7 linked regions of the Homo sapiens genome follow. Changing the gene in region 1 together with any one later gene gives a genetic interaction. Each region holds a gene or a part of one and is shown in the gene's direction. Other genes may lie near its edges. The genes, in order: KRAS, LUC7L2, TKT, TBCD, CSE1L, WDR83 and SNRPF.

Evidence for each region.
Region 2: changes in KRAS (region 1) and LUC7L2 are lethal when combined (synthetic lethality), as found in Homo sapiens cells (2 studies listed by BioGRID, with this or other methods).
Region 3: changes in KRAS (region 1) and TKT are lethal when combined (synthetic lethality), as found in Homo sapiens cells (2 studies listed by BioGRID, with this or other methods).
Region 4: changes in KRAS (region 1) and TBCD are lethal when combined (synthetic lethality), as found in Homo sapiens cells (3 studies listed by BioGRID, with this or other methods).
Region 5: changes in KRAS (region 1) and CSE1L are lethal when combined (synthetic lethality), as found in Homo sapiens cells (2 studies listed by BioGRID, with this or other methods).
Region 6: changes in KRAS (region 1) and WDR83 are lethal when combined (synthetic lethality), as found in Homo sapiens cells (3 studies listed by BioGRID, with this or other methods).
Region 7: changes in KRAS (region 1) and SNRPF are lethal when combined (synthetic lethality), as found in Homo sapiens cells (3 studies listed by BioGRID, with this or other methods).

The regions. Positions count from the first base shown.
Region 1 is NC_000012.12:25,243,322-25,247,929, reverse strand, and holds part of KRAS (GTPase KRas), read left to right. Parts: intron 1-2,534; 5' UTR 2,535-2,545; coding exon 2,546-2,656; intron 2,657-4,608. UniProt on the Homo sapiens protein: Ras proteins bind GDP/GTP and possess intrinsic GTPase activity. Plays an important role in the regulation of cell proliferation.
Region 2 is NC_000007.14:139,414,946-139,419,553, forward strand, and holds part of LUC7L2 (putative RNA-binding protein Luc7-like 2), read left to right. Parts: intron 1-2,516; exon of another isoform or gene 2,517-2,592; coding exon 2,593-2,784; intron 2,785-4,608. Other genes in the region: FMC1-LUC7L2 readthrough protein, read left to right, coding at 2,593-2,784. UniProt on the Homo sapiens protein: May bind to RNA via its Arg/Ser-rich domain.
Region 3 is NC_000003.12:53,228,194-53,232,801, reverse strand, and holds part of TKT (transketolase), read left to right. Parts: intron 1-1,251; coding exon 1,252-1,445; intron 1,446-2,180; coding exon 2,181-2,345; intron 2,346-3,365; coding exon 3,366-3,522; intron 3,523-3,664; coding exon 3,665-3,795; intron 3,796-4,442; coding exon 4,443-4,526; intron 4,527-4,608. UniProt on the Homo sapiens protein: Catalyzes the transfer of a two-carbon ketol group from a ketose donor to an aldose acceptor, via a covalent intermediate with the cofactor thiamine pyrophosphate.
Region 4 is NC_000017.11:82,939,961-82,944,568, forward strand, and holds part of TBCD (tubulin-specific chaperone D), read left to right. Parts: intron 1-1,438; coding exon 1,439-1,523; intron 1,524-1,529; exon of another isoform or gene 1,530-1,545; coding exon of another isoform or gene 1,546-2,094; exon of another isoform or gene 2,095-2,117; intron 2,118-2,188; exon of another isoform or gene 2,189-2,488; coding exon 2,489-2,503; 3' UTR 2,504-4,608. Other genes in the region: uncharacterized protein LOC124904095, read left to right, coding at 1,546-2,094.
Region 5 is NC_000020.11:49,094,001-49,098,177, forward strand, and holds the end of CSE1L (exportin-2), read left to right. Parts: intron 1-139; coding exon 140-286; intron 287-731; coding exon 732-963; intron 964-2,175; coding exon of another isoform or gene 2,176-2,187; exon of another isoform or gene 2,188-2,348; coding exon 2,349-2,438; 3' UTR 2,439-2,949; downstream 2,950-4,177. UniProt on the Homo sapiens protein: Export receptor for importin-alpha. Mediates importin-alpha re-export from the nucleus to the cytoplasm after import substrates (cargos) have been released into the nucleoplasm.
Region 6 is NC_000019.10:12,672,751-12,677,121, forward strand, and holds the end of WDR83 (WD repeat domain-containing protein 83), read left to right. Parts: intron 1-96; coding exon 97-164; intron 165-257; coding exon 258-366; intron 367-451; coding exon 452-566; intron 567-2,772; coding exon 2,773-2,922; 3' UTR 2,923-3,041; downstream 3,042-4,371. Other genes in the region: DHPS (deoxyhypusine synthase), read right to left, coding at 3,088-3,183, 3,267-3,392, 4,358-4,371. UniProt on the Homo sapiens protein: Molecular scaffold protein for various multimeric protein complexes. Acts as a module in the assembly of a multicomponent scaffold for the ERK pathway, linking ERK responses to specific agonists.
Region 7 is NC_000012.12:95,864,296-95,867,748, forward strand, and holds the end of SNRPF (small nuclear ribonucleoprotein F), read left to right. Parts: intron 1-1,028; coding exon 1,029-1,093; intron 1,094-1,709; coding exon 1,710-1,776; 3' UTR 1,777-1,845; downstream 1,846-3,453. Other genes in the region: CCDC38 (coiled-coil domain-containing protein 38), read right to left, coding at 2,781-2,894. UniProt on the Homo sapiens protein: Plays a role in pre-mRNA splicing as a core component of the spliceosomal U1, U2, U4 and U5 small nuclear ribonucleoproteins (snRNPs), the building blocks of the spliceosome.

The DNA.
Region 1 (4,608 bases):
AGCCCATTACTTGGTAACATGAATAAAATATTTTATGAAAAATAACTATTTTCCAAAACAAAACCAAAACTTAGAAAAGTGGTATTGTTTCACACTTCAGTAAATCTCTTTAATGATGTGGCTTAATAGAAGATATGGATTCTTATATCTGCATCTGCATTCAATCTATTATGATCACACATCTGGAAAACTTGTGAAAGAATGGGAGTTAAAAGGGTAAAGGACATCTTAATGTTATTATGAAAACAGTTTTGACCTCTTGCACACCAGAAAAGTCTTAGTAACCTGAGGGGTTCCTAGACCACATTTTGAGAACTGTTTTAGGCTATGCAAACTGGTTGGGGGGAGGTTGGGGTAGGCAGAGAGCTAGAAGATACATTTTAGTGTAATTCTCCTCATCTATTCCTAATTGCTTTGGCCTACATTTGAAATAAAGCGTGGAGGCAAACGGGATAAGATACATGTTTGTAGTGGTTGTTAACTTCACCCTAGACAAGCAGCCAATAAGTCTAGGTAGAGCAGAGTAAGGCGGGGAACTATGCCGTGACCGTGTGTGATACAATTTTTCTAGCCTGTGGTGCTTTTTGCGGCAGGGCTTAGGAGTAAGGTTAGTATGTTATCATTTGGGAAACCAAATTATTATTTTGGGTCTTCAGTCAATTATGATGCTGTGTATATTTAGTGTTTATCTACAATATATGCACATTCATTAATTTGGAGCTACTCATCCTATAATAAATAGTTGTGCATTTACTCCCATTTTTTTCTGCATTTCTCTCCTTATTTATAATTATGTGTTACATGAGGGAAAGGAGGTGAAATTAAACATTCATATTATTTCAAAAAATTTGAAACAACTAACTAAAAAATATGTTTTATTTTCTGTATGGTGTTTGTTATACAATCTGTCAATATTCATGCACCTCTTGGGAGACAGTGTATGAAAAGCAAAGAGTAACAGTCACATGGATTACTGATTACTGAGATATATTCACTTGCATCTTTTTTTTTTTTTGAGACGGAGTGGCTCTGTCGCCCAGGCTGGAGTGCAGTGGCGTGATCTCGGCTCACTGCAAGCTCCGCCTCCTGGGTTCACGCCATTCTTCTGCCTCAGCCTCCCAAGTAGCTGGGACTACAGGCGCCCGCCACCACGCCCGGCTAATTTTTTTATATTTTTAGTAGAGACGGGGTTTCACCGGGTTAGCCAGGATGGTCTTGATCTCCTGACCTCGTGATCCACCCTCCTCGGCCTCCCAAAGTGCTAGGATTATAGGCGTGAGCCACCGTGCCCGGCTCACTTGCATCTCTTAACAGCTGTTTTCTTACTAAAAACAGTGTTTATCTCTAATCTTTTTGTTTGTTTGTTTGTTTTGAGATGGAGTCTTACTCCGTCACCCAATCTGGAGTGCAGTGGCGTGATCTGGGCTCACTGCAACCTCTGCCTCCCGGGTTCAAGTGATTCTCCTTCCTCAGCCTCCCCAGTAGCTAGGACTACAGGAGAGCGCCACCACGCCTGATTAATTTTTGTATTTTTAGTAGAGAGAGGGTTTCACCATATTGGCCAGGCTGGTCTTGAACTCCTGGCCTCAGGTGATCCACCCGCCTTGGCCTCTGAAAGTGCTGGGATTACAGGCATGAGCCGCCGCACCCGGCTTTCTAATCTTTATCTTTTTTTGTGCAGCGGTGATACAGGATTATGTATTGTACTGAACAGTTAATTCGGAGTTCTCTTGGTTTTTAGCTTTATTTTCCCCAGAGATTTTTTTTTTTTTTTTTTTTTTTGAGACGGAGTCTTGCTCTATCGCCAGGCTGGAGTGCAGTGGCGCCATCTCGGCTCATTGCAACCTCGGACTCCTATTTTCCCCAGAGATATTTCACACATTAAAATGTCGTCAAATATTGTTCTTCTTTGCCTCAGTGTTTAAATTTTTATTTCCCCATGACACAATCCAGCTTTATTTGACACTCATTCTCTCAACTCTCATCTGATTCTTACTGTTAATATTTATCCAAGAGAACTACTGCCATGATGCTTTAAAAGTTTTTCTGTAGCTGTTGCATATTGACTTCTAACACTTAGAGGTGGGGGTCCACTAGGAAAACTGTAACAATAAGAGTGGAGATAGCTGTCAGCAACTTTTGTGAGGGTGTGCTACAGGGTGTAGAGCACTGTGAAGTCTCTACATGAGTGAAGTCATGATATGATCCTTTGAGAGCCTTTAGCCGCCGCAGAACAGCAGTCTGGCTATTTAGATAGAACAACTTGATTTTAAGATAAAAGAACTGTCTATGTAGCATTTATGCATTTTTCTTAAGCGTCGATGGAGGAGTTTGTAAATGAAGTACAGTTCATTACGATACACGTCTGCAGTCAACTGGAATTTTCATGATTGAATTTTGTAAGGTATTTTGAAATAATTTTTCATATAAAGGTGAGTTTGTATTAAAAGGTACTGGTGGAGTATTTGATAGTGTATTAACCTTATGTGTGACATGTTCTAATATAGTCACATTTTCATTATTTTTATTATAAGGCCTGCTGAAAATGACTGAATATAAACTTGTGGTAGTTGGAGCTGGTGGCGTAGGCAAGAGTGCCTTGACGATACAGCTAATTCAGAATCATTTTGTGGACGAATATGATCCAACAATAGAGGTAAATCTTGTTTTAATATGCATATTACTGGTGCAGGACCATTCTTTGATACAGATAAAGGTTTCTCTGACCATTTTCATGAGTACTTATTACAAGATAATTATGCTGAAAGTTAAGTTATCTGAAATGTACCTTGGGTTTCAAGTTATATGTAACCATTAATATGGGAACTTTACTTTCCTTGGGAGTATGTCAGGGTCCATGATGTTCACTCTCTGTGCATTTTGATTGGAAGTGTATTTCAGAGTTTCGTGAGAGGGTAGAAATTTGTATCCTATCTGGACCTAAAAGACAATCTTTTTATTGTAACTTTTATTTTTATGGGTTTCTTGGTATTGTGACATCATATGTAAAGGTTAGATTTAATTGTACTAGTGAAATATAATTGTTTGATGGTTGATTTTTTTAAACTTCATCAGCAGTATTTTCCTATCTTCTTCTCAACATTAGAGAACCTACAACTACCGGATAAATTTTACAAAATGAATTATTTGCCTAAGGTGTGGTTTATATAAAGGTACTATTACCAACTTTACCTTTGCTTTGTTGTCATTTTTAAATTTACTCAAGGAAATACTAGGATTTAAAAAAAAATTCCTTGAGTAAATTTAAATTGTTATCATGTTTTTGAGGATTATTTTCAGATTTTTTTAGTTTAATGAAAATTTACCAAAGTAAAGACCAGCAGCAGAATGATAAGTAAAGACCTGTAAGACACCTTGAAGGTCATGGAGTAGAACTTCCATCCCAAGCAGATGAGGATTTATTTAATCTCAAAGACCTCCAGGAGGGGACATTCCCCAACTGTCCTTGTTAACTCATTTTCAGAACATATTTATTAGCATATTTTACATGTAATTTGGATCTTCATGTTAAATTTAACATCAGTGGAGATGGAAAATAAGCATATCGCCTTGTCTTTGAAATAGCCCTATATTGTTAGATTGTTTCTTAGGCTTCTTTACCCTGGGTTAAGCAGTCCTAATACTTTAGCATTTATTCTACATCTAGTGTACTAATTTAAAAAAATCAGTTCTGAAAAATTTCTAAGAACTTTCTTCAAGTTCCAAGCTGTGAAATCTAGAACAGGTCAAAGTGCCTTATTAACGTACTGTACTGTGTAGTGTCTTGAAGAGACACTTTGCGCTGAGGCAAGTTCTGAGGGCATTGGGTGGCCTTGGGAAGATATTTATGCAGTTTAGAACCTGGAGAATTGATTAGATAACTAATCATAAGGAAACGTCACATATTTTTGGTACTATAAAAAAGTGGAGAAATAATGCCTATTTGCAAAGATTTGATTTAAACATAGAAACAACTTTATTTGGCTTCCAATTTTAAGAATTTACAGCAGTAAAGGGGAACAGTCTAATTGAAGTAGACTGCCTATGCAATAGTCTCTGTATATTTACTTTTGACAAGTTAATTCAATGTGTACTATAGTTTTGTTTCTTTGAAGAGGTTTGAATAGTGCACCCATTTTAATCTGTATTGCAAATTCAGGGTTACTTGGCAGACTCTACTATTTAAATCAGATGTAAAAGGAAGTTTTAATATAATTCACTTTATGCCTGAAAGTTTTCCTGGGATTTTGGAAGGTGATTTTACTGGAAATGCTGTCTGTCTTCCCTGAAAATCTGAGAAATTCCATTACACTTTGTTTCCAATCAGAGGTCATGAGTGCTATATGAGTATATACAGCATGACGTCATGAATGTGATAAAGTGGGTTAGGAAACCTTTTGCTAATGATTGTTAAAATGCAATATAAATGTTGAAGAAATAAAGCTAACAGTTAAGCCTTTATTTGGGCGGAAGGCTGAAAAAGTTTATAAACTTAAACCTATAACTCTGCTTATGATTTCTGCCAAACCAGAAGACTTGACTCTGGGAAGCATTGGTTACCTGTGAACTTTGAAACTGACGGTCCCTGACGTAGTTTAGTCACCTGGG
Region 2 (4,608 bases), on another chromosome or scaffold:
GCAAAATGCCAGCTCACTGCAACCTCCGCCTCCCAGGTTCAAGTGATTCTTCTACCTTAGGCTCCCTAGTAGCTAGGATTATAGGCACGTGCCACCATGCCCTGCTAAGTTTTTTTTTTTTTTTTTTTTTTTTTTTTTGTATTTTTAGTAGAGTAGGGGTTTCACCATGTTGGCCAGGCTGGTCTTGAACTCCTGACCTCAAGTGATCCGCCTGCCTCAGCCTTCCAAAGTGTTGGGATTACAGGCATGAGTCACCATGTCCAGCAATAGATCTTTTTTTTTTTTCTTAACCACCTGACATATCTTTATTTACTGCCTACAAACCTGTATAGATCCCTTTCTATAGTATAAGCACTAAGTTTAGTGCAGGAACTTTGTTTTACTTGCTACTCAACCTCCCCTAGTATAGAACAGTGCAAAAATACCTAGTGAATATTTTTTGGATGAAAAAATTACCTAGAATTTTTAAAAAGATGAATAAAGTTATACATTGGAAGAAATGGCATTCATAATAACTCAAAATGAGTGGTTAAACGAAGTATGATTTGATAAAACTTACACTGAGAGTTTTATATTTTTTCCCTCTGCTTCCTTTTGGAATTACTCTTTTCAGCTGTGGAAATAACGCTTTTTTTTTTTTTTTTTTTTTGAGACAGGGTCTCACTCTGTCCTGAGTAGCTGGGACCACAGGCGTGTGCCACCATGTCCAGCTAATTTTTAAAAATTTATTGTAGATACGGGGTCTCCCTATGTTGCTCAGGCTGGTCTTGAACTCCTCCCGTTTAAGGATTAAGCAGTCCTCCCATTGTGGCCTCCCCAAGTGCTGGGATTACAGACACAAGCTATTGTGCCCAGCCAGAAATACTCTTTTTAAGTGTGGCTAAAGCTACGTCCATGTCATGTACCTTTCTTTGACTATAATGTTGACATAAGCTGAATGCCTTTTAGCATCGTTCATAACAATCAGTTGAAGATAAACTGTATTTGTAAACTATCTCATATGTATAATATGATTTTGAACTTGCTGTATCAAATTATGAGCAAACCTCACATTCTTAAAGTGACTTAAATTTAAGAGTTTTATTGAGGTATAAAATATATATATATATATATATATATATATATATATATATATATATATATATGATTTACTCTGAAGTCAGTGATTTTTTAGCAGATTTAAAGCTGTGCAACTATCACCATAATCCAGTTGAGAACATTTCCATCATTCTTAAAGTGACTCTTCTAACAAAGTTGCATTCCTTTGTTTCCCCTTGTTTTCTGTCAAACGTTTATGTCCTCTCCATGCCATTTCCACCCTCACCATGCACCCCCACCCACCCCACAAGTTAGTTTGTGACCTGGTGGAGGCTATAAAAGTGTCTTACCTTGTGGGTTTTTTTCTTTTCAAAAAATGTCTTTATTTTGCCAGCACCTTGATCGTATATTTTCTGGTTTTTCAGAATGTTTTTCGTTCTCTATTTCTGTGTATTCATTAGAAATACATTTTTTTTGCAATCTGAGTCAAGTTCTCAAAAATGATTTTCGCAAGTGTTCTTTCTCCCAAACTGTTTGCTCCTTGAATAGAGAACTGTCTTACTGTGTTTGTTTTGTCTTGCTCTCTATTGCCCAGGCTGGAATGCAGTGGTGTGAACACAGCTCCCTGTAGCCTTGACTTCCTGGGCTTGGGTGATCATCCTTCCTTAGCCTCCCAAAGTGCTGGGATTAAAGGCGTGAGCTACTACCCCTGGCCCTTACTCTGTTTTGATTACACTGTGACTAGACATGCATATTGTGGGCATTAAAAACTTACTTCTATGGTTATCTCACCTTTCTAATTCAGACAAAGAGTAATTTGTCCTGACGTATTCTTCCTCATCTCTTCTCTTCCCTTCTGTCCAGGTCTGTCAGGTACATATTTAATTTCTAGAGGATACAAAAATGTTCAAGATATTTAAGTGCAATTAAATTCATAACAAATCTAGATAATATAGCCCCTGGCATATAGTAGTGGTTCAAAAGTTGCTTTCACTTGAAAAACTATTTCTGATAATAAATTTATACATTACTGATTGCTCTCTGAGAATTATCAATCAGTGTCTTGTTTTTGAGACAGAATTTCACTCTTTTGCCCAGGCTGGACTGCAGCGATGTGATCACCAGGTCATTGCAGCAGCCTTGACCTCCCTGGCTCAAGAGATTCTCTCACCTCAGCTTCCTGAGTAGCTGGGACTACAGGCATGTGCCTCTGTGTCCAGCTAATTTTTGTATGTTTTATAGAGACAGAGTTTCGCCATGTTGCCTAGGCTGGTCTTGAAATCCTGAGCTCAAGCGATCCTCCTGCCTCAGACTCCCAAAGTGTTGGGATTACAGGTGTGAGCCACGGCGCCTGGCTGAGAATTATTAATGTTTTATTTTGAATTCTAGTATGTAGTTATTAACACACCAGCAATTCAGTGTAGATTTAGCTGACTTGGAATATAATTGACATTAAGACTACTGAAAAAAAGTTTCTCTTTAAAGAAAAGGCTTTAATAAATGAGAAATATAGTAATTACAAAGGTAGAAACAAAATCAAATCTTGTCTGGTAGATCCAGGTCCAGAGAGCATCGCAGACATCGATCTCGCTCCATGTCACGTGAACGCAAGAGGAGAACTCGATCCAAATCTCGGGAGAAACGCCATCGCCACAGGTCCCGCTCCAGCAGCCGTAGCCGCAGCCGTAGCCACCAGAGAAGTCGGCACAGTTCTAGAGATAGGAGCAGAGAACGATCCAAGAGGAGGTATTGATGTGTCAATCAGAGGATATGGAGCTACCTTAATGTTTTAGAGTTGTTTATGTTTACTTATGTTACTTATGTTTAGAGTTCAGATTATTGGTTTGAAACTTTTGCATCTGGTAATATGTACACATTTATGTGTGGGTGTACAACATTTTTCTGTGATTATATGGGTAGTTTTGAAAGAATATACTTATGAGCCAGAGCAAGAAATTGGAACCAATATGTGTAGAGGTTATTGCTTTTCTCTGCTTAGTGTGTCTTGGAAAAAAGTTCTTTACAGGTAAATAATTTTAAATACCAATACCCTTAGTATGGATCAGCAAATTAGGGGCTCTGAGAAGTCCTTTCATTACAAGAGTTGTTTAGCTTTGATTTATTGTTTTCTAAACTTATTTGAGCTGGGATGCTTTTTCAGAGCAGACACATTCTAGTATATTCTTGTTTTATCTGCACTATAGATATGTATTGTTACATACCTTCAGCTTGGCAAGGCAGACTAATAAGGAGGTTCCAAGACTTCCCTTGGTTTAATGAGAACATTCAAAAGGTGCAGGCATAGGGTAAGGTATGTTTGAGGACTTGAATATCTATTAAGGATAGACAAAGGATTATAATGTGGTAGAAGAGTTTAGCATTCATAGTCTGTATAGATCAAACTGTCAAAACTTCTCAGGTCACATGATGGCCCTTAAACCAGGTAATTTCTGTGTAACGTAAGCCATGTTTAAAATTGCTTTTTTCTTGACAACTATTCAGAAGTATATGTATGATAAACATTTTTTGAGTGCCTAGTACCTACTAGTCTTACATATTCTGTGGATTACTCCACATAAAATCTATAATAAAATCCACAGAAAGCTGTTAAAATCTTTCCTATTTTTTTTTGACTCAACTTTCCATTCCCTGAAATCACTCACAAGCTGAGTTTGTTAATAGGCTCTCAATATTTTATTTCTTATATTCTGGCCTTGTTTTTAGTATTTCTTAAGGTGATTTTAATAATAATTAATTGTATATGTTTTACTGTACTAGACTTAGTAAAACATAAGAAAGACGTATAACATAGTTGAACAACTTTAAGTTGCTCTAAGAAGTTTCCTATGTGAGGCTGGGTGCCATGGCTCACGCTTATAATCCCAGCACTTTGGGAGACCGAGATGGGCGTATCACTTGAGATCAGGAGTTCAAGACCAGCCTGGCCAACCAACCCCATCTCTACTAAAATACAAACATTAGCCGGGCATGGTGGCACATGCCTGTAATCCCAGCTACTCAGGAGGCTGAGGAAGGAGAATTGCTTGAACACAAAGGTGGAGGTTGCAGTGAGCCAAGATCGCACCACTGCACTCCAGCCTGGGTGACAGAGCGAGACTCCAGCTCTCAAAACAAAAAAAAACAAACAAAAAAAAAAACAAAAAGTCTCCTATGTGAGTTAGAACAAAGGATTGACATCTTTGACAATAATTAGACTGGCATAAGACTACCACATGTTATAAAGTGCTAAACTGCATATCATAGAATAAATGATCCGAGAGTTTAGATGAGGCAAATAACAGAGTAATCAAAAATGGCTTCAGGTAGTCGGTAAAATTTGAACAGGTAGAATCAGCTAGGAAAAAGATATTCCATATAGAGTGAATATCCTAGGCAAATGCAGAGAATGAGGAGGGAGTTTGTAAAGGACAGAGTGATTTGTAGGCCTCTTATCTCACACTCTTGAAACTGATTTTGGGGGTCTACCCTCAGTGCAGTGTTCAGAAATAAGCATTTTTTAAAAGTTACCTGTCTTATCTGCACAATGAATTTTCAGAATTATCCTGCTAG
Region 3 (4,608 bases), on another chromosome or scaffold:
GCTCCAGCTGAAGGGCCGACACAGAGCCAGGCAGGGCCCGGAGAGAACTGTTCCCTCCAGGAGGTGAGTGGGGTACTCCTCAAGCAATGGCAGATGCTGAGCAAGGCCTGTGTGGGCCAAGAGCCTTGGGGGGTTTGGAACCTGGGTTCTGCCCCAGGCCGGAGAATGAGGCAGGCGTAAGTCACTCCCTGGCACCCAGGTGTGGGCTTCAGATTCCTAGGCCTGGGATGGCCTCACCCATTTTAAAGATGGGAAAATGAGACTACAAGTGGTCAGGGACTTGCCCGGGGACAGAGGAAGTCTATGGCACGAGGGGGGCTGATCCCAGGGCCTGGGTCGGCTTCCCTGCCAAATGCCCCTGGCTGCCCACCTGCCTGCTCTCAGGGGTTGTGGCTTGTTCTGCCCATGTAGACTCAGGTATATGAGGATGTTCTGAGTGGGGGTTTGGCAGTGCTGGGAGGTGTCTGGGAGGGGGTGGATGTCGAGGAAAGGGCTCTGGGATATTGTCATGGCTTTGGTGCTGCTGCCTGGCACTGCCCTCTGGTGTTAAAAATGGGCAGGATCTGGACCACTTGCAGCTTCTTGGGGGCTCCTGCTAGTCTTTCGGGCTGCTGGGTGCTACCTGGGAGTTCAGTCTGTTCTTGGCTCTGGCCAGACTCTAGTGACTACTGAGGTGACCTCCAGGGAGAGGGATATTCAGCCTTCCTGGCCGCACACAACAAGGTGCCATGGGGTGGGCATGCCTAGGTGCTTATAGACTCCTCTGCTGCTCACAGATGCATTGGGTGACCCTGGAAGCCCTGTTCTGGGCCTTGGGTTCCCCTTCTGATGGCCAGGGTCCCTTCCAACCCAGTCGACAAACTGAGTATTTCTGCAGCAGACACCTCTACCTGTGTGTGACCCTGCAGGCGGGGTTGTGGGGAGGAAGAGAATGGACACATTGGTGAAGGGATGGGGCAGTGGGCCCAGAAACACACACCTGCCCACGTCTGGCCCCTCCTTTCCCACTCAGCTGTGAGCTCCCAAAGGACCAGGCAGTAGACAGTGAGTGGTGGGCACGTAGGAGTCCATCCTATTCACTGCGACCCTCCTTTCCTGGCCCCCGTGCCTGGCTGGGCTCTGCCTGTCTGGGATGATGCCATTCCTCCCTTGCCCTCGGCAGGTAGAGGGCCAGTCTCCTGGAGCAGCCTCCTGGCCCTCTGGGAGCTTCTGTCTTACCCATTCCTCTGTCCTCCCGTGTTGGGTCTGCAGGGGTAGAAGATAAGGAGTCTTGGCATGGGAAGCCCCTCCCCAAAAACATGGCTGAGCAGATCATCCAGGAGATCTACAGCCAGATCCAGAGCAAAAAGAAGATCCTGGCAACCCCTCCACAGGAGGACGCACCCTCAGTGGACATTGCCAACATCCGCATGCCCAGCCTGCCCAGCTACAAAGTTGGGGACAAGGTACAAAGTGGGGCCTGTTTCTCTGAACCCATAGTTCTCAGGTTTCCCAAGTCTGTGGCCCAGATACACCCTCTGGAGGGCTGGGAAAGGGAGGAGAGCGATTCATTTAGGGCGAGGAGTGATCCCTGAGGTGTTGTTCCTGTCACTTCCCTCAGAATGACAGACATCTCTGGAGTTGACCTGCAGAGGCTCAGACCGGGCAAGGGAATTGCCCACTTAGCAAGCTTAGCAAGCTACTGACAGAACTGAGATCAAAGCCAAGGACTCACTCCCAAGTTCTTGCATCGCTGGTCCACGAGGGACCCTTGGCCTGAGCTCAGGACCCCCACCTGACCTGGGAAAGGCTAGGCAGAGCTGTCCCACTCCAGGTTTCTGTCCCAAGGGAACCCATCCATGCAGCCTGTGCCTGGCCTTGACTCCCAAGCCTTCTGTGTTCCCATGCAAAGTGGAATAGGTTCATGGACCTGGTGCAGCAGGCGGGAAGTTGGGGCTGGTGGGTGTCTTCTGTAGCTTATACCTTTCACAGCCAGAAGGGGCCGGGGCTCCAGGGGCTCCCAAGACATTGACCGTAGTCGTTGGCAACCTTTCAGCAGTTAAAAGCCTCTGCAGGACCTTGTGCTCCAGGGCTTCCATTTTTGGCCCCGTTTTAATCCTTCTCTGAAAGCAGGGCTCCAGGCTGCAGGTGTGCACTCACCCTCAGAGGGGTCCAGAGCCTTCCCACTCTCTTCCTCACAGATAGCCACCCGCAAGGCCTACGGGCAGGCACTGGCCAAGCTGGGCCATGCCAGTGACCGCATCATCGCCCTGGATGGGGACACCAAAAATTCCACCTTCTCGGAGATCTTCAAAAAGGAGCACCCGGACCGCTTCATCGAGTGCTACATTGCTGAGCAGAACATGGTAGGTGCTGGGGCCGGCAGGGACAGGTCCACCCAAGGCTGAGGGCTGTGGTCTGAGGGGTGCGGGGCAGCCATGTTGGCAGAGCCAGGTGCCTGCTGTAGGCCAGCCCAGGGAGACTATAAGAAAAGCCAGGACCCAGCGTTAACCCCTGACCTTGAACAGCCACAGTTTGGGAGGTTCTGCCCAGGTGCAAATGTCCTGGACAGGTGTGCACATGGGGGAGCCGAATGGGACTGCAGGTGCTCTCAGGAGGAGCTGCGTACAGGCCAGGCCTGGTGGTGAATGGGGTCTCTTCCAGGTGGAGGACAGGCCTGGCCAGTAGGTGGGGCCGTGATGGGTTTAGCAGCCCGAGTCTGTAGAGCACCTGTAATGCACACGGCTCTGGGCCCTGCCACCCTGAGGGATGCAGAGATGAGGGAACTCTGGGCCCCTGACATGTACCCATTTGGGGAAGCAGACCCTTGTCAGGAACTGAGGTTGTGAAGTAAGGAACAATGTTTTGTCCATGTTTTCAAAATATCCCCTCCTGGTGGTCCAGGAGCCCAGCCTGGCTTGCAGGCCCCTAGGGACAGGGAGCTTCCTCTCTCTGGAGGGCACTCAGATCTCCAGAGTTCTTCCAACTGGACCTGAAATTCTCTCTGTGGTTTCCAGAGACTGCTCTGCAGGGCGTGGGGCTGGGGAGGTCCCAGGTACTAGGGAAAGAGGCCTTGTGTTGGCTGGCAGATTTTGGAGCCTTGAAGGGCAGCTGGTTTGGAACTGATGACTGTACTCAGTGCTGCTTCTGGATGAGTGATTTGGGGCCTGGAGCCTCAGCAGGCATGAGGCTGCTGCCCTCGGACCCCAGGGAGGGGTTGGGAGGACCGGTCTCTGCAGAAGAAGGTGGTGGGGGACATATTCAGAAGCCCAGAAAGGATGGACAATCTATATACAAATTGTGGCTTTCTCCACAAAAGGGGTCCTAGGCTCCCCGACCACCCTCTGCCTGCCCCTTTGGGCTGACCCTGTCCCACCTGCCCCCAGGTGAGCATCGCGGTGGGCTGTGCCACCCGCAACAGGACGGTGCCCTTCTGCAGCACTTTTGCAGCCTTCTTCACGCGGGCCTTTGACCAGATTCGCATGGCCGCCATCTCCGAGAGCAACATCAACCTCTGCGGCTCCCACTGCGGCGTTTCCATCGGTGAGTTTAGCCAGGGTGTTTACACCTGGAGCTCCCTTGACTTTTGCACCAGGAGGTATGGGAGGGGGATGGGCCAGGATTCCAGCCCATGGATGGGGGGGTAGGGGTCTTATTTCTGCATATCCTTTCCCCCACACCCCAGGGGAAGACGGGCCCTCCCAGATGGCCCTAGAAGATCTGGCTATGTTTCGGTCAGTCCCCACATCAACTGTCTTTTACCCAAGTGATGGCGTTGCTACAGAGAAGGCAGTGGAACTAGCCGCCAATACAAAGGTAGGTTGCATGGCTGTTCTTTCTCCTGCTGGCAGCCATCACTTCCCAAGGGAAACAGAAGAGGAGGCCAGAGCTGGTCACTTGCTGCCCCAGGGGGTGTTTCCTGACCTTGCCCCTGGTGTTCGTGTAGCTTGTGGAAGTTAGACAAGAAAAAACGAAATACACACCCCACTTACTGCCACGTGGCAGACATTGTCAACTGATTGCCAGTCTGTCTCTGCTGAGAATCCTGGCAGCCCTGGCCGGTCCAGCGGTTGACACCTCTCCACCCTCCTGAGTTGGGTTCTCCAAGACAGGCAAGGATGAGCTGAGCCCTGTGGTCCAGGCCCGGAGCTGCATGCCACAGACCCAGTGCGCGTGGTTCCTGCCCCTCTGCCTGGTGCAGTCTGTGGGAGTAGCCCACCTGCAGCCAGTCTACCTGGTGGAAAGTTGCCTTCGGTCTGAGGCTGCAAGGTGGTGGGCAGTTCTCAGAGTGTTCAAGTGGGGTGCGGGCGGCAGAGGGCAAGCAAGGCCCTTTTCCCTGCTGGAGTAGCCAGGATGCAGTAACTAACGCTCCCATGGGAAGGGATGGCCTCTCTAGAAAGACCTCGTCTCTGAGGTTGGGTGTGCCACATCCTGTATCCTCAGTTTATCTGTTTCGGTCTCAGGGTATCTGCTTCATCCGGACCAGCCGCCCAGAAAATGCCATCATCTATAACAACAATGAGGACTTCCAGGTCGGACAAGCCAAGGTCAGTGCCTCGCATGCCCCAGGAGCCCACAGAGCTGCCTGGACCCTCCCTGCTGTGACTCCCAGCAGTCAGGGCACACCCT
Region 4 (4,608 bases), on another chromosome or scaffold:
ACTCTCCACGTTTACTTTGGCAGGCACAGTTTCTGCAACATGGGCTGGCTTCTTTACCATGGGTGGAGTAGAATGGCGGTTTTGAAAGATGTGTGTATTGAGTTGGGGGTGGGAGGGTCTGAATGAGAGCAGAGTGGGGAAAGTGCAGGCTCAGGTGTCCTGGGCCAACCGGTATGTTCCTGGGAACAGCAGTGATGGTGTCTTACACATATGGGCATGGGCACCCATGCTGGCTCACACACATGCTCACTTGCACGCGCGCACACACACACACACACACACACACTTCTAAAAGGGGAGCAGTCTCGTCACCCCGTGTTGGAGATCAGGACTGAAGCAACCAGAGGCTGTGTGGGTGTCCACATGGCATACCCGGGGTGGTGGAGTCCCAGGTGTCCTGCCTGTGGATGCTGCTCTGTTTTGAGTGCCGACTGTGAGGGCCTCCGTGCTGATCCCGGTGCGTTGCTACAGGTCTGTGGGGTCCACGCCCCTTGTTGAATCCAGCAAGGACGTAGGTGACGTTCCCTAGGTGTCTCCTCGGAACAGTGACCTTCCAACAGGGCTGGGTTCCCATAGAGCTCACGCACCAGGCAGCCGCTGTGGCCTCGGAGGACAGAGGTGGCCTCTCCAGGGCTTCCGCGAGGTTTTCTGGTTTGGGGAGGAGTGTGTGTCTGCTCCTAAACAAACACGTGGTCCCAGGAGAGGAACCGGGAGCAGCTGGGCTGTCTTCTCAACATGCGTTGAGAGAATGGCCATCTTAACTACTGCTCTGGAGACCCGTTTTTACAATGATTTTTTTAAAAAAAAACACCAAGGTGCATTCTGGACCAGATTCTAAAATAATTGGCTTTAGGACTGAAGAAGCCAGGTGTCCCGAGCGGGGCGAGGCCTCCTCCAGCGAGGCTGGGTCGGGGTGGCCTCCTTTCCTCACATCAGGGAGGGAGGAACTAGCAGGGTGGGCCTGGGGGCTTCTCCTATCGTTTAATCCCCTTTCTGTTAAAAAAAAAAATCCTTAGAATTTAAAGAGAATATTTTAAATTAGAAACGAAAAACATGCCCCAGATATCTCCACAGCATTGCTAGAATTTTTATTTCGCATCAACAGCTAAATTAAAACCTGGAAAACCCTTGTCAGCCCCTCCTTGGCCTCGCTTGGTCTGTCCTCCCGCAGTCCCTGCGCTGGGCGTGGTCCTTCCCGAGGGGCACCCCTTGTTGGGAAGGAACCGTCCTCCTGCGATTCCGGAAAGGGCTCAGGCTCGAGGCTCTGCTGGAGAACGTGCTCCTGTGACGTCTTTTCTGCCCTCAGCCTGGCTATGGATGTCGGGGGTGAGGTCTCCTTTCCCTGACTGCGGCCATGGAAGCTTGACGCGGGACCTCCGCACACCTGAGGTTCTCCGGTGGGCACTCGAGAGACTCACGGCTCTCCCTCTCCTCACAGGGACGCGGAGCTTGCAGTGGTGAGAGAGCAGCGCAACCGTCTGTGTGACCTTCTGGGCGTACCCAGGCCCCAGCTGGTGCCCCAGGTAACCCTGTCACCTTCACAGCATGAGGTGCCTGTGCTTCCCTGAGCTCTGGAATGTTCTGGGGCCAGCGGCTGTGCTTAGCTTCTGCCAGCACGTCCACACGGCCCGTTCCCTCGTCTCATGTCAGGACCCCTGGGATTACGGGACCAGCAGAGCTGCCTTCTCTGGCCACTGCCCACACCTGTGGGCCCCTGTGGCATCCAGGCCACTTGCTCTGGGGCGTTTGGGGGGCCGGGGAGTGGGTGGAGCTGGCACCAGCTTGATCCAGGCTCCTCATGCCTGGCCCTGGGGTCTGTTTGTGCTCCAAGTGCCAAGAGTGCCACCCTACCCCTCCTCATCTGCTTCCCATGAGTGGGGCCGGGGCTGGGTGAGAGGCCCCCAGAAGCTGCCCCTGTGCACCTCACCAGCCCGTCACTCTTCTAAAGTAACAAAAACAAGTACCTCAGTTCTCTCGGGGGCTGGGGCCCAGGGTTGCTGTGCTGTCTCTCTAGTTACCAGGGTTGGCTCCTTCCTCTCAGCCTCCTTCCGGCAGGAGGTTATATCTGAGAGGGAGGAGGAGAACCATGTCTAGATACATGGGGGCAGTGGGGATGGGCTGAGCATCAGGACACAGCCTCCCCCATTTCTGTGTGTGTAAAGGCTGAACTCAACAGCAGACTTTGGAATTAAATGTGCTTTTTACATTTTTATTAGGAAAAATTTCAAACGTGTGAATGCAGGTTAAGAGCAGTGCAGTGAACCTCCCTTCCCGCTCCCCAGATGGGGTGCCCTTCCGAGGACACGTTAGTCATGAGCACCTGTCAGCCACATAGCTCAGGCTGCCGGGTGTGTGGGAAACGGCACAAATGGTTTCCTGCAGGAACCGTGTCAGTCCCCACACAGGGCCCAGAGGGGTGAGGGTCCCCTGGCTGGGAATGGTGTGTGTTGGAGCTGACCAGCCTGAGCTTGTCTTGTCTCTTCTTCAGCCTGGTGCCTGCTGAAGCCAGTCCTGGAGCCCATACCTCACCCCTGCCTGGTGAGGATGTCTTGTTCCTGAGGGAGGCCGGTGTGGAAAGCCTCGCACAGTGGTGCCTCCAGCTGTTGAAGGGTAGCGCTGGCCCTTGGAGGCTGGCACTAGCTGACAGCTTTTCCTCTCTGCACCTGCGCTCTGGTGACTTGGGGTGGACGCCTCTGCCTTCACTTGAACACAAATGTGCTTCCTATAAAATCATGTACCAAGAAGTTCCTGCCTTTTGTCTCTGAGCCTGATGTGTGTAGGGGTGATGGAAAGGCTCACTGCCCAGGGGTCAGCCAGAGGGGAGGTGGGCTGCACTCCTCCTGCCTGGAGACCAGGCCCCCTTCTTGCCTGGTGCTGTCCCTGCTGTGGGAGACGTCTGGCCACAGGCAGTGCCCCACCCAGTCTTGGAGAGAGATGAATGTTAAATCAGAGGTTCAAATGCTAGAGAACTGAGAAGCCCTGGTGGCAGGCATGGTCTGGAGTGCTGGGCAGATGCTGTTTCTGGGCCCGTCTGCCTGGTGGGGGTGCTGTCCTCCCCCCTGTGCACACGTGAGCATCGTGCATGTGGCCCCTCTGCAGTGCAGGAGTCACTGATTGATGGGTGTGCCGACCAGCAGCTTCACAAATGTCTGCTGCAAGGGGAATCGTCAGAGTCCAATGTGTGCCTCTACAGTAATGTCGGAAATAAATACCATTCTTGAAATAATTACACTGTCTTAGGAGAGCCTGGGCAGAGTCCACACTTGGGTTTTTAGGCAAAGGGCAGGAGGCTACCTTTGTCTCTGTGTCTGAGCTCGTGCTGATCCATCCCAAAGCTGGTGAGGGGAACGTGTATAAAAATTTCACTGTGGTAGCAACCCACACCCATCTCTGGGACCTGTGCTGTGCTCATAGGGCTTGAGGTGCAGAACCACGGCCAGCAGCACCAAAGCAGCCCCAGGTGTGGCCACTCAGAGGCCCAAGGGCTTGGGTGAGCAACCCTTTCCCTATGTGAGGAGCCCAGGGGTGCCATGTGCGTGGTGTAGATTAGGGTGGCTCCCTGGCCTGCTCTCAGGTGGGGATGGGGCCTGGACACAGGAACATGGGCAGGCCGAGAACTGGGAGGTGCCACCGCATCTGTGAGGCTTGTGAGGTCACCAGGACCACAAGACCAGGACTGTGACAGTCCGTGCTGTGTGTTTAGCAGACAGCTCTTCACGGGATGTGTGTGACGACCTGGCCACACAGGAGTGTGGGGTTAACACACTACTGTTGTTGTGTTTGACCTGGTGGCCAATGGTCTTTATACCCTAAAAGAGCCTTGGGTTACATTTTTACGAGATTTAAATATTTTATTCCAACCTGTGTAATAGGGGTCTCCTCCTCCTTGAACTGTCCCGATTGGCTGGGGTCACGTGGTGAGGGTCCTGGGTGACCAGGCCTAGCCTTGGCCACATGAGTCCACACAGTGGAAAAGGCTTGGCTCCTGTGGTCGGCACACACGAGACTCTGGTTGCGCCTGCTGGGTGTGGAACAGGCGCACCATCGCCATGCCTGCAGCTCACAAAGCTCCTGCTGGCCTGGGATGCACTGAGGATGGAAGGAACAAGTGGCTTCTGAGAAAAACATGATGAACTGTTCTTAGTGCAATTAAAAGAAGATTCCAGATAAATGGCATTTTAAGACATGGAGGCAGGTCGATTACCCACCCAGACCCATCAGTGACACTATGTGGCAAAGCAGTTCTTCTTTTAATGTCGGTCTAACTTAGCAACCCGAGGAAAGTGGATCACTCCACTGGCCACTGCCTCTTTCCCACTGGATCCCATCCATCACTGGGGCACTTGTGCTCACCAGACACCTGGTGGCCTGGAAAGCCCTCTTTCAGCAGCCGTTTCTGGAGCCCACCAGGGTCCAGGTGATAGAGTTTGGCAAGGAACCCCTTGCTCACATGATAGCTGGGGCAGACAATAGCAAATGAACAAGCAAGCACCATCAAGGCAGGCAACACTGAGTGCTATGAACAAAGATAAAGTGGGCAATGGAATGGCATGTTGGGTGTTGACTCCGAGAAGGTGTTCAGAAAACCTCTCTGAAGGGGCAGCATTT
Region 5 (4,177 bases), on another chromosome or scaffold:
GTCTCTTCAGATGATCAAAAACAGCAGTCTTGTTATTTAGTAATTTATCATATTCATAAGAAGTAACTAACATCTAAGCATTTTACTATTTCATTATAGTGATAATCTAATATTAAGTTGATTTATTTTGCTTTAATAGAATGTTTGGAATGGTTTTGGAAAAAATTATTATTCCTGAAATTCAGAAGGTATCTGGAAATGTAGAGAAAAAGATCTGTGCGGTTGGCATAACCAAATTACTAACAGAATGTCCCCCAATGATGGACACTGAGTATACCAAACTGTGGTAAGTACTTCATTTTAATATTTTTGTAAGTTACAGCTTCCTTCCCATATGACTGCAAAATTAACAAAGCTTATTCTCTTGGGGGCCAAGAGAATCTTGGTCTGATCTCAGCTTCTCCACAATCAGATCCAAGACATGATTTCTGGATCCTTCTGGGCTTAGAATGATCTTGTTTCCTGCTTCTTTTTCAGGGGGATTCATGGACCCCTTTAAGAGTCTGATCTAGGTGATCTCTAAGACAATTTTATGACAGAAGCCCAACTAAACTGACTTATCTTTAAGGGGAAGAACTGAATAAGCCAAGAAAAGAACCATCTTAATTTCAAAGGTCCCCTTTTATTCTTGAGACTATGAGTCTGTAATTTTGTGTCTCTGAGCAATTGCTGGTTTTAAGTCTTCCGAGTATTTTCTTGACCTTTTTATCTCTTGCTTTCTTCCAATCCAGGACTCCATTATTACAGTCTTTGATTGGTCTTTTTGAGTTACCCGAAGATGATACCATTCCTGATGAGGAACATTTTATTGACATAGAAGATACACCAGGATATCAGACTGCCTTCTCACAGTTGGCATTTGCTGGGAAAAAAGAGCATGATCCTGTAGGTCAAATGGTGAATAACCCCAAAATTCACCTGGCACAGTCACTTCACAAGTTGTCTACCGCCTGTCCAGGAAGGGTAAGTGTGTTGTCAAAGAACTCTGTGATAAATGGAGACTTTAATGGGAGGGCAAAAGGATAGTAGTAGTTCTGGTGTCTGTTTTCATTGGTGGGCGTAATAAAACTAAATCTCATTGAGTTACAGCAAGCTTATTTTCTTTAATTAAAAACACTGAGCCCTTTTTTTCTTGTATTATGTACTACAAATATATTTTAAGTGAATGGATTTAGGAGTGAGAACAAAGGAGGAAAAATCCCTTCAATAGAAATGTAATAAGGCTGTATAGTTGCATTTTGTCAGCACTTTATAATAAGAGTTTATTTCCCAGATCGAAGTAATCCATCTATTATTAAAATGTGGTAGCATTTTTTTATTTTTATTTTTATTTATTTATTTTTTTAGACAGGGTCTCACTCTTATCCAGGCTGGAATGCAGTAGTACGATTATGGCTCACTGCAGCCTCAACCTCCCAGGTTCAAGTGATCCTACTGCCTGTCAGCCTTCCAAGTAGCTAGGACCCACTATGCCCAGCTAATTTTTTATTTTTTTGTGGAGACAGGGTCTCCCTATGTTGTTCAGGTTGGTCTCAACCTCCTGGGCTCAAGCCATCCTCCTCCCTCAGCCTCCCAAAGTGCTGGGATTACAAGTGTGAGCCTGGACACAGTTATTTTTTTTTAATTGCAGCATACTCAGAAATTAATAGATCATGGCATAAACCTAATAATGACTGTATAGTTGCATTTTGTCAGCACTTATTATAGAGTTCTTACATGTTACCTGATAAAATATATATTTTTCAAGCCAGACACAGTGGTTTATGCCTGTAGTTCTAGTGCTTTGGGAGGCCAGGGCTGCAGTGAGCTATTACAGTGCCACTGCAATCCAGCCTGGGCAACAGAGCGAGGTCCCGTTTCTTAAAAAACATATATGTGTGTGGCGTGTGTATATATATGTATATATATTTTTTCATTGTATTATTACGGAGACTTTCAAACATATATAGAAAGAGCATAATGAAGCCTGCATGTGCCCAGCTTCAATAATTACCAATATCTTGCCAGTTTTGTTTCGTTTCTCCTTTTATTCTCTGTATTGAGCAAGTCTTAGACATCATACGTTTCACGCGTAAGTACCTTATTCTACATCATTAACCAGTAAGGACTTTTTAATTAACCACAATACCACTATCACACCTAATAATAGTAATTCCTTATGGATCTTTTCTTTAGACCTATTTTTGAAGGCATAAAAGCAGTTGAGTTTCTGGAGAATTTTTGGATGGTGATTAATGACTTGACTGGCTGCTCTTCCCAGAGCTGTGGCAGCTCTCCCGTAGAAGATGGGGTTTGTATTGGCGCACCAAGATCTCCAACAGCCAGTGTGTGTTTCCCATCTCTTGTAGGTTCCATCAATGGTGAGCACCAGCCTGAATGCAGAAGCGCTCCAGTATCTCCAAGGGTACCTTCAGGCAGCCAGTGTGACACTGCTTTAAACTGCATTTTTCTAATGGGCTAAACCCAGATGGTTTCCTAGGAAATCACAGGCTTCTGAGCACAGCTGCATTAAAACAAAGGAAGTTCTCCTTTTGAACTTGTCACGAATTCCATCTTGTAAAGGATATTAAATGTTGCTTTAACCTGAACCTTGAGCAAATTAGTTGGTTTGTGTGATCATACAGTTATGTGGGTGGCTTCTAGTTTGCAACTTCAAGGGACAAGTATTAATAGTTCAGTGTATGGCGTTGGTTTGTGTTGAGCGTTTGCACGGTTTGGATAATCTTAAATTTTGACGGACACTGTGGAGACTTTCTGTTACTAAATCCTTTTGTTTTGAAGCTGTTGCTATTTGTATTTCTCTTGTCCTTTATATTTTTTGTCTGTTTATTTACGCTTTTATTGGAAATGTGAATAAGTAAAGAATTACTTGTGTTACTTGCCAAGCAGTGCACATTTCATAGTTTCAAATCTGTAATCAGCAATAAAAATCCTAAAATATGTACCTAAGAACATCTTAAGGGCAGGTTTTCAGTGCTCTCTCATGCTTTTATAAAAATGAAGAATTTCTTTAAATTTCTTCCTTTTCCTTTCCTGGACTCTGTAAAATCCTAATTTCTAAATCATGTAAACTCAGATTATTTAGTCTTTTTTTTTATATGGGGGAAGGGGACATTAATATAGATTTGGGGCTTATTTACTAGAATTTTCTGTAGCAGTTCCTAGGTGGCAGTGTGAGTTTTGGGTAGGTGGCTCCTCTGGGAGAAATGCTCTGCCTCGCTTAATGGGATGGCGGTCGAGAGTACTTGAGACTGTGGATGTTTTGATCTCTTTCATCTCTGCTGTTCCCTGGAGAGTGGAGGTTACTTGGAACTTTTCAAACCCTGACACCTTAGAACCGTGAAGTCCAGTCCAGTGGTGGATCCGGCCGGATGCCTGGTGAGCTTGGTTGCACTGGCTCCCTCCCTTGGCCTGGCCCATGGAATTGTACAGCATTCGTTTCTGAGGAATGAAGAATCAGAATATCTAAATTTTGTGAGGCACAGTTTATGCTGGAATTGTTCATTGTCCATTCAGTGTAGTTAAACTGGAACTTTTGTCTTCCCAGCTCAAGTGATTTGTCACAGGAGTTATCGATATCCCTTTTTTTTTTCTTTTTTACCCCCAAGATAAGAGTCTTGTTCTGTTGACCAGGCTGGAGTGCAGTGGCACAATCTCAGTTCACTGCAACCTCCACTTCCTGGGTTTGAGCAATTCTCCTGCCTCAGCCTCTCGAGTAGCTGGGATTACAGGCGTCCGCCACCACGCCCAGCTAATTTTTGTATTTTTATTAGAGATGGGGTTTCACCATATTTGTCAGGCTGGTCTCGAACTCCTGACCTCATGATCTGCCTGCCTCGGCCTCCCAAAGTGCTGGGATTACACGCGTGAGCCACTGTGCCTGGTGATAACTTTTTTAATCTTAGGCACTTGACTCGAATGGTTTTTCTTATTTTGAATTTTTTTTTTTTTTTTTTTTTTTTTTTTTGAGACGGAGTCTCACTCTTGCCCAGGCTGGAGTGCAGTGGCACAATCTCAGCTGACTGCAACCTCCGCCTCCCAGGTTCAAGCGATTCTCCTGCCTCAGCCTCCTGAGTAGCTGGGATACAGGCATGCATCACCATGCCTGGCTATTTTTTGTATTTTTAGTAGAGACAGGGTTTCACCATGTTGGCCAGGCTGGTTTCAAACTCCTGAC
Region 6 (4,371 bases), on another chromosome or scaffold:
CTGGAAGAGCAGGCCCACTGGGCTGGGAAGGCACAGGGCTGCCTGGAGCCATGTGAGTGTAGTCAAGGTTCCCGCTGGATCTACCCTCTCCTGCAGCTCCGTGGATGGCCGCGTGAGACGCTATGACCTAAGGATGGGGCAGCTCTTCTCAGACTACGTGGGCAGTGAGTGTGGCTGGGGATGTGGGACAGGCAGGGAAGATGGGGGGCCAACCAGGGGCACCCCACCCTCACTCACCTACCCACCCTTCCCCCAAGGCCCCATCACCTGCACCTGCTTCAGCCGGGATGGGCAGTGCACCCTGGTGTCCAGCCTGGACTCCACATTGCGGCTCCTGGACAAAGACACAGGGGAGCTGCTGGGCGAGTGAGTCCTTGTGGTCGTGGGGATCCCCTTCCCTCCTCTCCCACCCCTGGAGAGGACCAAGCCCCCCGATCCTGTCCACCCTTAGGTACAAGGGCCATAAGAACCAGGAATACAAGCTGGACTGCTGCCTGAGCGAGCGTGACACACATGTGGTCAGCTGTTCTGAGGACGGGAAGGTGTTCTTCTGGGACCTGGTGGAGGTGAGGTGCCCCCAGCCCTACTTCATACCTAGATGCCTGCCCCATCTCAGCCCTGTCCTTACCTCAGTCACTCCAGGGCCTGAAGGCTAGGATCTTTTTTTTTTTTTTTTTTTTTTTTTTGAGACAAGTCTTGCTCTGTCGCCCAGGCTAGAGTGCAGTGGCGCAATCTTGGCTCACTGTAAACTCCGCCTCCCAAGTTCAAGCGATTCTCCTGCCTCAGTCTCCTGAGTAGTTGGGATTATAGGTGCGTGCCACCACACCCAGCTAATTTTTGTATTTTTAGTAGAGACAGGGTTTCACTATGTTGGTCAGGCTGGTCTTAAACTCCTGACCTCATGATCCACCCACCTCAGCCTTCCCAAGTGCTAGGATTACAGGCGTAAGCCACCACACCCGGCCCTTTTTTCTTTTTTTGAGACTATTGCCCAGGCAAATGCAGTGGCGCCATCTCAGCTCACTGCAACCTCTTCCCCCCAGGGTTCAGGTGATTCTCATGTCTCAGCCTCCTGAGTAGCTGGGATTACAGGCCCCTACCACCATACCTGGCTAATTTTTGTATTTTTAGTAGAGACAGGGTTTCACCATGTTGGCCAGGCTGGTCTCAAACTCCTGACCTCAAGTGATTCACCCGCCTCGGCCTCCCAAAGTGCTGGGATTACAGGCCTGAGACACCGTGCCCAGCTTGGGCTAGAGAGAAGATGAGGCAGGAAGGGCATTCCAGGCAAAGGGAACAGCATATGTTAAGAGGTGTAGCCTGCGCATGCATCAGTCAGGAAACAAAGGCTTCAGGGTGGCGGCAGGTGCGGCAAGATCCGGGGTCAGGCTGGGCTGCAGATGCCAGGCCGAGCAACTGGCACTGACCCCTGGGCAAGGGGGAGCCGACGGCCATGTCTAACCTTGGGTGAGATAGGGCTGCAGTCATTCAAGAAACTGGAGCTACATCTTAGCATCCCTGTGCATGGTTTCAAGCCCTGAGCCCTGTCCTTGACATGTCCCAGCCTGGTGGGGAGTCAGGCCAGAAACAGACCATCCTGGTGTAGTGGGGTCAGAGCCGGGGGAATCTCGGCAAAGGAGACATCAGCGCTGGGCTTGGCCAGGGGAACTAAGGCCCATAAGAGGATGGAGGGAACCGGGGGGGCCCTGAAGACTTGGCGGACAAGCTCTTGCTTTAGGAACTAAGGTAGCAAGAATGTTCCACCTATTTCTTATGGGCCCAGTAGAACAGAAGTTGCCTTGGAGGGCAGGCACATCAAGGGACATTTTCAAGGTGGAAAGAGGAAGCATGGCTTGCTTGAGGAACTGTTTACATTGTGTTGGGACCAGGGGAAGTGGGGATCATTGGGGCTGCCAAATGGACAGGATGGAGCCCAGCTGGTGGCAGGGAACAGGCAAGCTGTGAGCAAGGCATGCTCCAAACATGGTAGTGGCAGAAAATCAGCAGTCTCTGGACATGGTCTAGAAGCAGAGCCAAGAGGAATAACTGATAGAGGAACATGTGGTACAAGAAAAAGACTCCCGGCCAGGCATGGTGGTTCACACCTGTAATCCCAGCACTTTGGGAGGCCGAGGGGGGTGGATCACGAGGTCAGGAGATAGAGATCATCCTGGCCAACATGGTGAAACCCCATCTGTACTAAAAATACAAAAATTAGCTGGGCATGGTAGCGCGTGCCTGTAATCCCACCTACTCGGGAGGCTGAGGCAGGAGAATCGCTTGAACTAGGGAGTCGGAGGTTGCAGTGAGCCCAGATGGCGCCACTGCACTCCAGCCTGGCGACAGAGCAAGACTCCATCTCAAAAAAAAACAGAAAAAGAAAAAGACTCCCAAAGCCAGGCATGGTGGCTCACACCTGTAGTCCTAGCACTTTGGGAGGCCAAGGCAGGAGGATCACTTGAGGCCAGGAGTTCGAGACCAGCCTGGGCAACATGGTAAGACCCCATCTCTGCTATTTTAAAAAATAAAAAATCAATAAGAGGCTCCCAAGACTTGCGGCCTGAACACCTGGTAGGACAGAGCTACTGAGGGGCTCAGTCTGAGGTAGATTAATTTTGCAGTGTCTAGGAGGCAATTAGAGGCAGGTGGCTGAAGGTCGGGGAGAGGTGACTGAGGGCTTCAGGCAGGACTGAGATGGGGGGTGCCCAGGGACCTCAGAAACCAGGGTACAGCCCAGCCACAGATAACCACTCCCTACCCCTCGCTCCACAGGGTGCGCTGGCTCTGGCCCTGCCTGTGGGTTCCGGTGTGGTGCAGTCGCTGGCCTACCACCCAACAGAGCCCTGCCTGCTGACCGCCATGGGAGGCAGCGTCCAGTGCTGGCGAGAGGAGGCCTATGAGGCAGAGGATGGAGCAGGCTGAAGCCAGGGGACCCACCAACAGGACCAAGGACCGAGACACAGACATGGAAGGACTTCAGATACCATCTTATTCTAGAGACGTAGCTGACCAAAAAGTAGGGGAGGGGCTGGGTCTGCAAATTAATAAATAGAAGAGGGGGTAAGACCTTCCTGGGACCGCAGCCGCTCAGTCCTCGTTCTTCTCATGCATGAAGGCATCCATCTTCTGGGCAAAGGTTTCAGCCACAAGCAGGGGGAAGACCAGGGAGGCGTCAGCATAGACCTGGGTAGGGGGGAACCTGGGTAAGCCATGGGACCCACACTCATCGTCCCAGAGACCCTATGCCCCACCCAGCCAGCGCTTACCTTGACGGGCTGTGCATCCACCCGGATCTTGCCCCAGGAGACAGCCTCGTCTGGTCGGGCACCTGAGTCAGAGCCATCAAACTCCTGGGCTGTGTTGATGTAAACAGCGTAGTCGGCCCCGTTCCGCTGTGGGGAGGCGGGGGCACGGTGGGCCCAGTCAGCCAGTCACAGGAGACAGACACAGAGGGAGGACACCGTAGCCAAACAGGCTGAGAGGTGTGTCCCAGATGAAGGAAGCCCTTCACAGACATTCGCTCCCAGACAGGGCCCATGTCAATGTCTGGGGTCACTAGAGCTGCTGGGCAACGATGGCTGTGTTTCCCCAGACCCAACAGCCAGGTGTCAACAACCCTGCCCCATCTGCAAGGCAGGAGCTGCCAGCAACTCTATCTTCAGAAGCCCTCCAAATCCAACCACCGCCTGCCTCCTGATCCCTGCATGGTCACCACTGTCCTGGACTGGAGTTCTCACTCACCTGCCACCATCTGTTCACCACATGGCCACCAGGGGGAGCATGGGAACCCGAGTCAAGTCCTCTCCCACTTCTCTCAGTGCAAAAGCCAAAGCCCCGCCTCAGCCCACAGGGCCCAGCAGGCTCCCTGTGGCACCTCCCTGCATCACCTCCTGGCCCTCACCACTCCACCTTCCCCTCACCAGGTACCCAGCTGTTCCTGGATTACTTCAGGCGCCCCAGAGCCTTTGCAATGGCTGTTCCCTCTCCTGGGAACTTTGCAATCCAGAAGCTCAATGCTAGTACAGCAGCACAAACTCCTGGCACGGGAGACAACCACATAGCTCCTGGGAGATGCCTCCCCAAACCCCTGCTCCCAGCTCACACTTCCAGAAGCCTCCTTCCAAAACCTCTTGTTGGACAGCACCCCTTTCTCTTCTCATGCCATCATTTAGTATTCCCCGTAGCAATGACTGCCCCCTGACGTGGATGTCACTTGTTTGCTATCTCCCCTACTAGAACATCAGTCCCGGGGAGCAGGGATCCTGGCCTGTCTAGTTCATGCTGTCTACCCAGCACATGGCATAGGCCCACCACACAGCATGTCTGCAGAGTGGGCCGAAGCGCCACCCCCACTCACCATGAGGTTGGCAT
Region 7 (3,453 bases), about 71 Mb from region 1:
CCTCTCTCCCATCACTCCTTAGTTCCTTCTCTGAGTCCCAAGTGGCATTGATTGTGATTTTTCTTTTAATTACAAGTAGAGCTTGTTACCTATATGTAGAAGGAAAGCTAAACATTTTGATATAAAATTAGAAATAATTCACCAAAATAACTGTAGGTAAAGTAAGAAGAGCTCAGACATTCGATTCATAATAATACCATAAGGGAAACACACTACTTTGCTGTAGTTCACCAAAATAGCTGTAAAGGTCACTGTTAACTATTTACCTTTCTCTTAAGAACTTGTTTTTCCCTGTTTATTAGTACATAATTAAAAATTCTTATTCAGGCCCAGATGTGATAGCTTATGCCTGTAATCCCAGCACTTTGGGAGGCCAAGGCAGGAGGATCACTTGAAGGCAGAAATTCAAGACCAGCTTGGGCAATATAGCAAGATCTCATCTCTACAGAAAAAATTGTTTCGAAGTAGCCAGGCTTTGTGGCACATGCCTTTAGTCCTAGCTGCTCAGGAGATTGAGGCAGGAGGAGCCCAGGTGTTCAAGGTTTTGGTCAGCTATGATTGTGCCACTGCATTCCAGCCTGGGCAACAGAGGGAGACCCTGTTTCTTAAAAGACAGGAAAAGAAGAAAATTCTTACTCAATTATTTGCTTTGGTTGTTGACTAATATAAAAGTATTTGGCATGTTAGCCATAGCTTTCGTATACCTATTTGGACACCTCAATATGAGTTAGAGACTGCCTTCTTCCACACACTGTTTTAATATCTAATAGAAAGAAATATTACATAACCTGGGAGATTCAGAAACTTATGTTGAAACAAGCTTTGAATATTAATTTCGTTGAAGGTTTATATGAAACCAAAAGTACTACAATAGTAATAGAAAGCTCATCTTCTGTTTATTAATTATAGATAAATTTGAGTTGTTGGTATAGAAAGGTCTCAGTTAATGAGTTCTCTCACCAATATTAGCTGTATTGTAATATTTTCCTCCTGTGTGATTATACTAATATATTTCTTTTTATTGAAAGCTTGCAAATACAGAAGAATACATAGATGGAGCTTTGTCTGGACATCTGGGTGAAGTTTTAATAAGGTAACAAACAGCAGTAGTATATGTAAGGAGTTACTGGTGAGCATTAGGAATACCTGTTCTAAATATATTAGTGCCTCAATTTTGGAATTACTTTTTTTTAAAAAATCACTATTATAATACTTTACAGTTAGACTTCAGAAGTCTTTGAAATTGTTAAACTTGTCAAAGGTAAGTTTTCAAATGTTTTGGAACTGGCCAAAAGATTTTTCTAGTGTTGATGTTTAATTTTCTAGCTCTTAGCTATAATCTTTTGCAGTGGCAACCTTTTGCAGTGGCCTTTGTTGCGGGAACTTAGTTTTGAATTTTAGTTGGGTCTGGCTGTTTTGTTATATTGATTTTCTGTACTAGCTTCAAAGCTCCAAATTCTGGTAATTATTTCCTTTGGAAAATCATAAAGATGTCATTTTATAACAACCATATGGTGGAAAATAAGTGCCATGTGCTTTTCAACAAATCTATGTGAAACTTTTTTTTAAAATGAATATATTTAAAAAATTTTTTTAAAGACAAGAATATTATAAATATAGTATTCAGTATTTTCATAATAAAAATATAGTAATTCATATCATACATGGTTTCTGGTTGGAACAACAAAATCGACTTTTTCTATTTACAGGTGTAATAATGTCCTTTATATCAGAGGTGTGGAAGAAGAGGAAGAAGATGGGGAAATGAGAGAATAGCATCTTTTGTGGGGGATTTTTTTTATATATATTTCTAGACAATAAAGATTTGTTTGTTTTTCAACTTGACTTGTGAACTATTTGTATTCAGATATTTACAAGCAAAGCTGAAATGATGAACCAATTGGGAAAGATTACTCACTGAACTAATGCTTTAAAAGCCACTGAATTTCATTTAAGTTGCTTTTCTTTTGTAAGCCCAATATTCTTTTTTTTCCCATAAAGGATAATTATTTATATGCTTTAGATATTTTTATGAAGGTGAATTTCAGACCTTTTCTTGTAAAATTATCTATTAGCTGAGACCTTTTAAATGCAACTTTTTCTTTTAAAGTTATTTTTGAGCTACTTTTAACGTATAAAATTAAACATTTTCTTGGTATTAATAATATACTGTCTTATTTTACTTAGTAGTCAATAAATTACATGTTAATTCTGTGTCAATATAAGCTAAATGCACATATTGCAGCTAAAATTGAAGCATCTTCTAAAAATTAAAATGATTGTACAGACAGGGCACAACAGAAATTGGGAACTGACATTCAGGCTGAAGGCATACGGTTTGTTCACTGAAGAGAAAAAAGTTCTCTGAACAAAATGTAATGTCAAATAAAAACCAGTCTCCCCATTATGTTCTGAGACATAACCTCGAGGTTGAGTTTTAAGCCCCTCAAAACCCTTCAGGTATTTTAGGGTTGTACATTGTTAAAATGTATAGTCCATAGTAATAACAGTATGCTATGAACTTCCCTACAGATGGGTTGAGAAAATACATCATTTACATTCTCATGTTGTAAGAGAATGGCCATTATTACACTTCAGTGTTCATTTACCATAGTTTTATCAGTAAACTATCTTTGTGTATCCCCAAGTGGGACAACTCAAAGTATAGAAGAAAGTGTTTAGCTATATGGAATAATACTTATGATATGAATACTTAAAGACTTAAAATTTACAAAATACACCTAAGACATTCTGGTAATAAAATGTCTTACTGCTTTTATTCAAGTAAAAAAATATTCTTCCTCTTGTGATTTTGTTTTTGTTTCATTGACTAAAGGTAGCTGCTGTTTGTTACCAGATGGAGGTTTTGAATGAAAGACAAGTCGTCTTCCCAACTGAAACAAAAGAAAAACAAAATACTTAATATTTTTTGAGCATAGCCATTTTCTATTGAAATTTGTGAAATACCAATATTAACTTGATTTTTACAAGGAATAATATGGTTTGTAACATTAACTAATCACAGTTAAAAGGGACTTATAACCTAACGGATGTCTAACATGCTAGGCAAAGTTGAGTAGCAAACTGGACACCAATAACTATGCAGAAGGAACAGCAGTTAGGTTTTATTGGGAAGTGGGAAAACTTAGGTAAAGTCATCAAATAGTATATGGTTCAAATGTGGTCAGCCTAGAAAAGCACCATGTTGAAGGCCACCATTTTATTTCTCAGTAAGTGCCATAGCCAGTTTTTCGTCCATGGTTGGAAGAGATGGCTTTCTCCTGTTGAGCACCTGACTAGCATTTAGAAATCTTGTTAAATAAAAAGTCCAGAAAACCATGTACCATCTTGAATACTGGTTGGCTTCTGGAGGTGTTCCCAACAGAAGAGGCTTTGGGAAACCCCGAGTTCATACCTATTCATTCTCTCTGGGTCATATATACTCAAATATAT